Regions from separate parts of the Homo sapiens genome. Here region 2 is linked to region 1. Evidence: fine-mapped expression QTL. Tissue or cell type: whole blood. Region 1 holds a variant in brackets; the other region holds the start of a gene. All regions are shown on one strand. Distances are from middle to middle.

The links.
Region 2: it holds the start of FAM13A, and the variant in region 1 is fine-mapped to the expression of FAM13A in whole blood (INTERVAL, PIP above 0.99).

The regions. Positions count from the first base shown.
Region 1 is chr4:89,100,647-89,106,031 of GRCh38, forward strand. No RefSeq gene overlaps it. Among named protein-coding and RNA genes, the nearest start is that of TIGD2, 8.2 kb to the right of the region's middle. RefSeq lists enhancers at 626-865, 976-1,125. The variant CTTT/C (reference allele first, on the strand shown) is at 2,580.
Region 2 is chr4:89,054,288-89,059,672 of GRCh38, forward strand. It overlaps FAM13A (family with sequence similarity 13 member A), which reads right to left and starts at 2,898. Exons shown (of 24, transcript NM_014883.4): 1 at 2,651-2,898. The coding sequence starts at 2,677. RefSeq lists an enhancer at 2,199-2,761.

The DNA.
Region 1 (5,385 bases):
TTCAAAGACTGTGTACAATTTAATAAGAAGAAAAAAGAGGAGGAAGAAAAACTCCCTTCCAAAAGAATATGTTATAAGGGAGGAATTTTATATTCAAACAGTTGTTAACCATAAAAGGTTTTCAAACTTTGGTGTAATAGAATCACACGGGATGATCACTGAAAATAAAGATTCCTGGGCTTCATCCCCAGTGTGAGCCCAGGAAATCTATATATTGGACTCCAGGTGATTCCAACCCACAGGGTTTGAAGAGCAACCTTGATAAATGTGGCTTTGGGGACAAAGTAGGACTTGGAAGGACGTACGGATGTACAGAGGAAGAAGAAAGCTTCCCAGACTAAAGGGGAAGCATGAAAAGCTCAAAATTATGAAGCTGCATGTGCTGAGGAGAGGGAGAATGAGTGGTGTGACGCACAATGGGCTCTCAGTTAACCTGACCTTACCAACCTGGGACAGAATTGAGGGCTCCTCTAAAGAATGTTGGAAATTGGGCAGGCTTGGAAAGGTAAGCAGGGTATATAATTTTCATTCACATTTCCTACTCATATTTCTCATACCAATCAGCCAATTCACTGGTTTCTTCAATTTACATCTAAGTGATTTTCAGGAAACGAGTCTAACTTTTCTTTAAGCATCGCCACCAATAATTTTCACTTCTTTTTTAAACCCCACTAAATCTTTTCTACCCTCCTGGGAACTCATTCTCTTACCTTTGCCTATGCTCCCAGCCATCTGAAAACCTACCATCCACCAGCCAACCAAGAAACAAAGAAAACAAAACAAAGTTTAAAAGTTCCCCACTGGGCATCTACATGACTCAAGAGTCTCAGAACTCACTATCTTTCAGTATTGTAACTTACCAACTTCTTAAAAATGATCTGGGATTTTCCAGTGAGTAATCAGAACTTTCACTTGTGTCTAGACACTTTCAAGTGGAGAAGTGTCCCTACCTTTATGCAAAAGGATATCTTTTTCTATTTATATTTTTTATATATATTTTCTAATTAAGGTTCGTCTATAATATGAAGTAAAATAATGTTTGAGCTGAAAGAGATGTCAAAGGAAAAGCTTTCATTTTACTGATGAGAACCGTTTCACATCCTGTTTTCCCTAACATGGGGTTCCCCAACACCCAGGCTACAGACCAGTGTGGTCCGGTTGGTGGCCTGTCAGGAACTGGGCCGCACAGCAGGAGGTGAGTGGCAGATGGGCAAGTATTATGGCCTGAGCTCCACCTCCTTTCATATGAGCAGCAGCATTAGATTCTCACAGAAGCTCGAACCCTATTGTGAACTGCGCATGCGAGGGATCTAGTTGTATGCTCCTTACGAGAATCTAATGCCTGATGATCTAAGGTGGAACAGTTTCATCTTGAAAGCATCCGCCACCTCCTCCATTGTGGAAAGTTTGTCCTCCATGAAACCAGTCCTTGGTGCCAAAAAGGTTGGGGACCACTGCCCTAACAGACCCATATCCCCCTGCATACTTCAAAAGAGGAATAAATTATATTTTATCTGGAAAATTCCCCTCAATATTTTATGTCCCTTAAGGTAGGTGACAGTAAATGGTTTTTGTGCAAACCACTGATTTATTATTGGCACTAAATAATTAAGTTACTAAAGGCAAATACTATTCTATATTAAATAAGTTTATTACACATAGAATAATAGCATTGTGATAAAAAAAAATTCATGTTTTTTTTTTTTTTTTTTTTTTTGAGGCAGGGTGTCACTTTGTCACCCAGCCTGGAATATGGTGGCATGAACACGGCTCACTGCAGCCTAGACTTCCTGGGCTCAAGCAATCCTCCCACCTCAGCACCCCCCAGCAGCTCGACTACAAGCATGTACTACCACACCTGGCTAATTTTTGTATTTTTTGTAGAGGCGGGGCTTCACCTCTTGTTGCCCAGACCAGTCTGATATTCCTGAGCTCAAGTGATCTGCCCGCCTTGGCCTCCCAAAGTGCTGGGATTACAGGCATGAGCCACCACGTCTGGCCCATGTCCTCATCTTAAGCTTATTAGGTATCATAAAACAAAAATCTTCAAGTGAATGAGAATCAATTATAAAGTAAATGGAAACCAAAAACAAAAAAGAGTCCCTTAAAAACTAAGAATGTAAATCTACCTAGAGATATCCTATTCTATAACAAAGCTATCTTGCATAAGGAATACTACTAATAATTCAAAGTCCATGTAAGGTATTTGTATGTCTGTATTATCTCAGCAGAGCAGAAAATTTAGGGCTTGTAATGATAAGAAACAATCTAATTTCAGGTGATTTGGGATAGTTTTCAGAAAACTCTCATTCCAATGAAGCAAATGAACACTATTGCAGACTTGCAGTGCTTTCATGAGTAGAAAGCCATTTTTATTAGTTCATGTTAAATATTCTATTTTAATAAATAACTTTAATTTTGCAAGAATAAATAATTACAGTATACTTTTCTTCTTTTCATGTCTTTGACATAAATACTTCTATTGTGATAGCATGGGCAGAGCATGGAGCTTTAAACCCAAATGTAACTGGGCTCAAATCCCTGTTCTGCTACCCACATTTGAGCCTTTCTTTTCTTTT[CTTT/C]TTTTTTTTTTTTTTTTGAGATAGAGTCTCACTCTATTGCCCAGGCTAGAGAGCAGTGCAGGAGCTCGGCTCCCGGGTCCAAGCAATTCTCCTGCCTCAGCCTCCTGAGTAGCTGAGATTACAGGCACACGCCACCACTCCCAGCTGATTTTTTGTATTTTAGTAAAGACGGGATTTCACCGTGTTGCCCATGCTGGTCGCAAACTCCTAAGCTCAGGCAATCTGACTGCCTTGGCCTCCCAAAGTGCTGGGATTACAGGTGTGAGCCACTGCACCCAGCCTAGCCTTTACTTTCTTGTACATAAAACATAGGTAACATCTACCTCATAGTACTGTTACAAGGATTAAGAGAGTTGCACATATGTAGAAAAAAGAGACATATGGGTGACAGAACTTCCCCAATGACTGAAATGACTTTTCATTAGAGATAAACCACAGTGAATGGTAAGTGAAGTTAGAAAAGAGATAAAAGAATACAAAATTGCTCTGCATAATGAAGTGAAAAAAATCTTGAGCGTTCACAAGCAGGTGAGAAGGAAAAAAAGAGAAGAGAGGGGACCCTGAGATAGAAAAATGTTGGGGGAAGAAAGAAAAGAATGGCATAGCAAGATGGAAGGATGCTGTGACCCAAAGAGAAGAACTGACAATAGGAAGTTCCCTGTGGCCAACTGGGCTCTTAATAAAACAATAATGCTGTGGTATAATATGAAATATATTTGGTTTTTTCCCCAGATCCTGCCACAGAGCTCCTAAAACCCTTGGGATTTCCTGAATGTTAGGAGTGTCTTTTGACATTTATACCAACCCTCTTTTGATGGTACCTGAGTTTATGCTAATACAGTGACTTAGGGTGAGGCCCCTAGATAACCTCAGCATGAGGCTGGTCAGCAGAAAGACCAAATGATTAGAAGGCTGGAACTTTCAGCCCCACTCACTGGCATCTGGGAAGGGGACTGGGCTGGAGATGAAGCTCTATAAAAACACTTGAACAACAAATCTGATGAGCTTCCAGGTTGAGTACATCCAGTGCTGAGAAGGTGGCAAGCCCAGAGACGGCATGGAAGCTCCGTGCCTCCCACCCTGCCATATCTTGCCCCTATACATCTTTTCCATTTGGCTGGTCCTGAGTTTTATCCCTTATAATAAACAAGCAAATGCAAGAAAATGTTTCCTTGAGTTCAGTGAGGAGCTGCCCTAGCAAATTAATGGAACACAAGGAGGGGCACCATGGGAATCGCAACTTACAGCTAGTCCTTCACAAGTATAGGTGGCAACTGTAAGGGAAGTGGCTGCACTGGAGTCAAGGGTAGGCTGAGGTAAACATTTGGTGCTGCATGACACAGTGGGACTGGAGCACAGGCACACAATCCCGTGCAGTATATAATCACAGTTATGTAACCATGTTATGGGTGGGCTCATCACCTGGCGTTGAGCCACCATTTTCTGTAATATAACCGCACTGCTAACTCTGTAAGAGAGAGCTGGGCTACCTTGCAGGTGGCCAGGAGGGGAGCCAGGAAGTGGCAAGTGCACTGGGGAGCACAGCTACAGGCATGTGGGTGGCAGGAGCTGCAAAGCCAGCGCTGAGAAGGGCTATGGCACAGCTACAGGTATGGGGGTGGCTGAGACAAAGGCTGATAGAGAGAGAGAATAAAGCCATATCCCAACTGCCTACAGTGCCCCGAGTGTTTTTCCAACTACCCGCCACCCATCCATCAACTCCCCTCAGACCCCAGCTCAGGCTGGAACCTGACAATTGGTGTAGTCAGCAGGATTCCGAGGTGAGTGTGTCCTCAGCCCCCAGTGATCCTGGGTTGGCTATGTGGCTGTGCTGCTAGGATGGGCTCCAGTAGAAACATGGGCAGCAGTGGACGGGTCCCCTGTGAGCACAGAGAAGGTACTGAAACACCTGGAAGCACACAGCACCGAGAAGGAGCATGCCTTTGCCAGCAGAGTCAGATGGGCATTTTTGACTGCACTATGGTCAGTGCATGCCCACTCCCTGCAGGATGCAGCACAGGTAAGGGACCTTCAGATGCAAGCCAAGCGCCTGGAGGGCCAGATACACAGTTTGGAATAAGAAGTGGGAACTGCCATAAGTGACAGCTTGAGCCCACCCTCCCAGCTGGACATTCCCGCTTGGTCTGATACTGAGGGGGAAGAACCCCTACTGCGGGCTAACCCTATGGTCCACCAGAAAATAGAGCATGAATAGCCACTTGGGCCCAAAAAGCAGACCCAGGAATCCCCTACCATGGTGGAGCATGCTTCATATAGTGCCTATACCCCCAGTGATTTGTGGGAGTTAGGCAAACAGTGTTGGCACCATCTGGGGGAGCCCCTACCGACCTGGGAAGTGCTGGTAACTTCGTGGAGGCAATTGACCCCAAAGCAGCAATTCCGGAAATGCCCACCCAGATAGATGCTCTGGCTCAAGGACTACTTACAGACAGGCAGAGGTATAGAGCCTTTTGTGTTTGATTAGGGAGCTGGCTGAGATACCCGGCTTGGGGGGACACCAGATGACCAGAGGCCACATGTGGAATTAGCAATCCACTGGTCCCCCACCAATGTATAGCAGGTGCTGGTGCTGGTAGACATTGGCACAGATTGTAGTCTTGTCTATGGGAGCCCGGATAAGTTTCCGGGTAAAGCTGCATACATAAATGGCTATGGAGGCTAGTCAGTGAAAGTGAAACCTGTACCTTTGCACCTTGGTATTGGCCACTTGGCTCCCTGTTTATACTGTGTACGTCTCTCCCATACCTGAATATATTCTGGGGGTGGATATTTTACACTGCTT
Region 2 (5,385 bases), 46 kb before region 1:
GATACACACAGACACACACACACACACACACGTACGTACTACAGATATCTAGTACTCATTATACTGTCTGAAGTATTAATGTCTTCAGCAGCAGGATATTTCAGTAGTTGCTACATATATGTATAAGTATGTAAGTCCTAAATGTTGGGGTTCAAAAAGCTATACCCCAAAATATGGTGCTTTGGCATGCTGGGTATTTTTAATTAAAATGTCTCAGAAATAAGCCTCAGAACCAAGGTCTCTCTCTGCCTTTCCACTCTCCTGCCCTCCCTCAGTCTCTCTTTTTCTTTCCTAAAGCACTGAGAGTGACTCTCTCTGGAATTTCCTTATCTGATTAAGGAAGCTTCTTTCCAAAAGAAATGCAATTGTCTTAAGATCTACTTCCTGAGAATCTCATCAAATAACCATGAAAAATTAACCATCAGAAAAGAGACTAAAAGCTGTCACCATATCCACACTGACTTTTCATCTATTCTTCTGAGGACAGCTCCAAGAGATTGGCTGGGAGACTTTATCTGCATAAAAACACAACCTTCATTCCACCCCTCACCTTTCCACCACCTCACCATAGCTCAGGGAAACGCTGTCCCAGGCCATGCTCTTTGAACCCATTCATTCACTTTAAAAATTATTTACTACCTCTCTAAAATTACCTGCAGCTCCCTACTTCTCTCTTCCCCAAAAAGAAGGCATTTAAGCTTCAACCACCTGGCCCTTCTTTGAATCTCATATTTGAGGGGCTCTCATATCCATATACATATTAATAAATTTGTAACTCTTTTTCTCCTATTAATCTATTGCCAATTGTTTCAATAAAATTGCAGAAAGGGCAGAGGAAAAGCTTTCTCTTCACTCCTACACAAAGTAAAAAGTAGTGTATCAGCTCATTGAATGTATTAATGTGTGACTTAGTTCTCCCTTTTTTGTCACGATGTTTAAAATTTTTTTTGTTGTTCTCCAAAAGCTATCTTTTTCCAGATATGCTATGGTACAACTGTTGAAAATGTATTTCCTCCTACAGTAAAACCAAGACAGCACAATCAAAGGCCAACCTTAAGGAGAAGGGTAGAAATGATTGAGAATTACTCATCTACCAGAGTGAATAATCTCTTACACTGTGTGATTTTTATGTCAACTTTAACTGAAATTTTATACATGCTTTGGATATAAATTAAGGGAAAATATAAAGTTTTATACATGAGTCAGTGTGCATTCCAGTCAAGGTAGAGATCAATATATTGCAGGTCAAGGGAAAGAAGTAAAGATCTAATCAGACAATCAGAGATGACTACCAATCTTCATGACCTATCTGCTGCCTCATTCTACACATTTTCAGTTCTGTATTGTTTCTTTTATAAAGCTAGAAAAATAGAAGGGCCACCTCTGCAGTAAAGTAAAAGTCAGTATTTTACACATAGATAAATCAGATTTTGAAGGAAACTCTTTGGGGTGATAAAAAAAGAATAACCACATGGATACCTGGATGCTACTAAGCCTCAGAGTTAAAAGGAAGACAGAGTGACATACATGGTGCTGAAAAGTTTTGAGCCTGGAAACAAGGTCATCCTGCAGTTTCACTAAGAAAACTTAATCTATAGGGCTGGTCTACCATTTGGTGACCATTTGGTGACCATTTGGTGTCTGTGTGTCAAAAATTGCTCAGATATTTCTAAACACTTCAGAATGCCATCAGAAGCTACAGCAAATTGCAGCTCTTTCTGAAACACACACAAAAAAAGAGGATCTGGCCTGAGTGTGATTTTTTAAGTGAGCAGTTAAGGTGATAATAAGGAAGAAGATATTTCTCATTTAATACATTCTAGAAAATAAAATGTCCCTATGGAATACAATAGCAACTTGAAACATAAATATGTGTAATTCTCATACAGATATATGCATTTTCTATATAGTACAATCAAAATTTAAATTACAGCATTCTGCAAATTATATAATTGACAATTTTTGATTATTACAAAAGGTTTTGTACAAGCACCAGCAGAATAATTTAGAAATTCATAAATTCTAAAAATTCTAAAACTCCAGAAATATGCACATTTTCCCAAGGATTTTATTTCAGTGTTATTTATTAATGCTACTGTGTTATAACAACCATTCATTTCTACAGTTTAAGGATACACAAACATTTATCAACTGAGCTTCTCCACCATCACTTTCAGCAATCATGCTGAAACAGAAACTCCAGAATTACTAAACGAAAATAGAAATATAAAACAGAAAAATGTCACACACATACTCAAAAGTAATAAATTAATGGTTACTTCAATTCCTCCTCAAGCTAGCCACAAGATTTCTCTAATAGCTATAATGAAGCATTCATGTTTAACTATTCAGGGACAAGAAAGTCTAAAATGCTTGAAAGTGCTCTACTTTAAATCAAGTTGACTTAACGGAATAAATCAGCATGCATCTTTCACCTTTTTTGGAAACTAAAGTGCACAAATATGCTGAATGCCATCCCAAATCCTGCCTAATACCCATTTAAGTAGATAGGAATTTAAGTAACAAATCTTTCCCCACCTCCTGGGAAGGAAAAATAAGTTACACAAACATCTCATCAAAACAAGGAAGGCAAGGCCCTCTCCTAAAAACTGGCAGTAAACACAGAAGACAGAAGAAGGCCTATACTTACACAGATGGCTAGAGCTCCTGCCCCCATTCTCTCAGAAAGCGTCTGGAAGAACTGAGGAAGACCAGACGAAAATATTAAAACGACAGCAAAATACTAAAATTCCATTCAGCACATATTCTTTGATGTGAAAAACAGCTCCCAATGCAAAGGCCCCAAGGTAAGCGAAGAGCAGCTTCTAACATTTTAGGAAGAGTGGTTTTGCTTCTCTTTCCGCTGAACCCACATGGCTGGAAGGACTGCCTGGAGTTGAAATTTGATCCACAGCCTCAGTGCTGGCAAGTAGAGGGAGTCACGTGACACGGGTCTTAAGTCGCTGACATCTTTTTTTCAAACCTGACTCCCTAGATCCTACACACAGGCTTCTTTGACTCCGAAAACTGCCAGTCACCTGGTGGCTTTCATTAATAGAACCAACAGTGCATAAAGTGAAAACACAGACTTGCTTCCCAGATTCCACACAGCTCTAAGCAAAATGTACGTATTCAGACTCAGGTTTAAAACTGCAGGCACATTATTCATTTTTTCTGAGGCAGTTTTCTCTTCTACTCTTCCTTAGAAACCAGCTAAATTCTACCAAAATTTTCTTCCTTCCATGCTACCCCATCAGAATTGTTTTAAATGAAAATGCTCTATTTTATGTAGCCGTTACTACTTCTAATTATGTATGAGTTGTCTTATAAAAATATACTGATGATAAACATAAACAACATACTTCTAGACAACCATAATTCTACATATGTGATTTGCAGTCTGAAAAATTAGCTAACTGACTTTTCAATAACTTTCTCTTCCACATGCTGTCACTAGAAAATTTGATAGATTTTAAAATTTACAAATATTTGAACTAATAGCTAAAATAGCCACTTCAGGTAAGCCAAAAGGAAACTATCCTATTTTTATTTTTGTTACCATTTTTTCTGTCAATTTGTTTTTCTTTTTTCTTTTGCTGTACCTATTGACCCATCCTCTAAGTTCTCTCCCCTCACCCCCAACCTCCCAACAGGCCCTGATGTGTGTTGTTTCCCCTTTGTGTCCATGTGTTCTCAATGTTCAACTCCCACTTATGAGTGAGAACATGTGGTGTCTGGTTTTCTGTTCCTGTGGTAGTTTGCTGAGGATGACGGCTTCTAGCTTCATACATGTCCATGCAAAAGACATGATCTTGTTCCTTATTATGGCTGCATAGTATTCCATGGTGTATATGTACCACATTTTCTTTATCCAGTCTATCATTGATGGGCATTTGAGTGGGTTCCATGTCTTTGCTATTGTAAACAGTGCTGCGATAAACATATGTGTGTATGTGTCTTTATAGCAGAATGATTTATACTCCTTTGGGTATATACCCAGTAATGGGACTGCTGGGTCAAATGGTATTTCTGGTTCTAGATCCTTGAGGAATCTCCATACTGTCTTCCACAATGGTTGAACTAATTACATTCCCACGGACAGTGTAAAAGCGTTCCTATTTCTCCACATCCTCTCTAGCATCTGTTGTTTCCTGACTTCTCAATAATTGCCATTCTAACTGGCTCGAGATAGTATCTCATTGTGGTTTTGATTTGCATTTCTCTGATGATCAGTGATGGTGAGCTTTTCTTCATAGGTTTGTTGGCTACATAAATGTCTTCTTTTGAGAAGTGTCTGTTCATATCCTTTGCCCACTTTTTGATGGGGTAGTTTGTCTTTTTCCTGTAAATTTGTTTAAGTTCCTTATGGATTCTGGATATGAGACCTTTGTCAGATGCATAGTTTGCAAATATTTTCTCCCATTCTGTAGGCTGCTTGTTCACTCTGATGATAGTTTCTTTTGCTGTGCAAAAGCTCTTTAGTTTAATTAGATCCCATTTGTCAATTTTGGCTTCTGTTGCCATTGCTTTTGGCATTTTTGTCTCTGCCCATGCCTATGCCCTGAATGGTATTGCCTAGGTTTTCTTCTAGGGTTTTTATAGTTTTGGGTTTTACATTTAAGTCTTTAATCCATCTTGAGATAATTTTTGTATAAGGTCTAAGGAAGGGGTCCAGTTTCAGTTTTTTGCATATAACTAGCCAGTTTTCCCAGGACCATTTACTGAATGGGAGATCATTTTCCCATTGCTTGTTTTTTGTCAGATTTGACGAAGATTAGATTGTTGTAGACATGTGGTGTTATTTCTGAGGTCTCCGTTCTGCTCCATTGGTCTGTATGTCTGTTTTGGTACCAGTACTGTGCTGTTTTGGTTACTGTAGCCTTGTAGTATAGTTTGAAGTCAGGTAGCATGATGCCTCCTGCTTTGTTCTTTTTGCTTAGGATTGTCTTGTCTATATGGGGTCTTCTTTGATTCTGGATGAAATTTAAAATAGTTTTTCTAATTCTGTGAAGAATGTCAATGGTAGTTTGATGGGAATAGCATTGAATCTATAGATTACTTTGGGCAGTAGGGCCATTTTCATGATCATGATTCTTCCTATCCACGAGGATAGAATGTTTTTCCATTTGTTTGTGTTCTCTCTTATATCCTTGAGCAGTGGTTTGTAGTTCTCCTTGAAGAGGTCCTTCACATCCCTTGATAGCTGTATACCTATGTATTTTATTCTCTTTGTAGCGATTGTGAATGGGAGTTCATTCATGATTTGCCTCTCTGCTTGCCTATTGTTGGTGTAAATGAATGCTTGTGATTTTTATACATTGATTTTGTATCCTGAGACCTTGCTGAAGTTCCTTATCAGTTCAAGAAGTTTTGGGGCTGAGATGA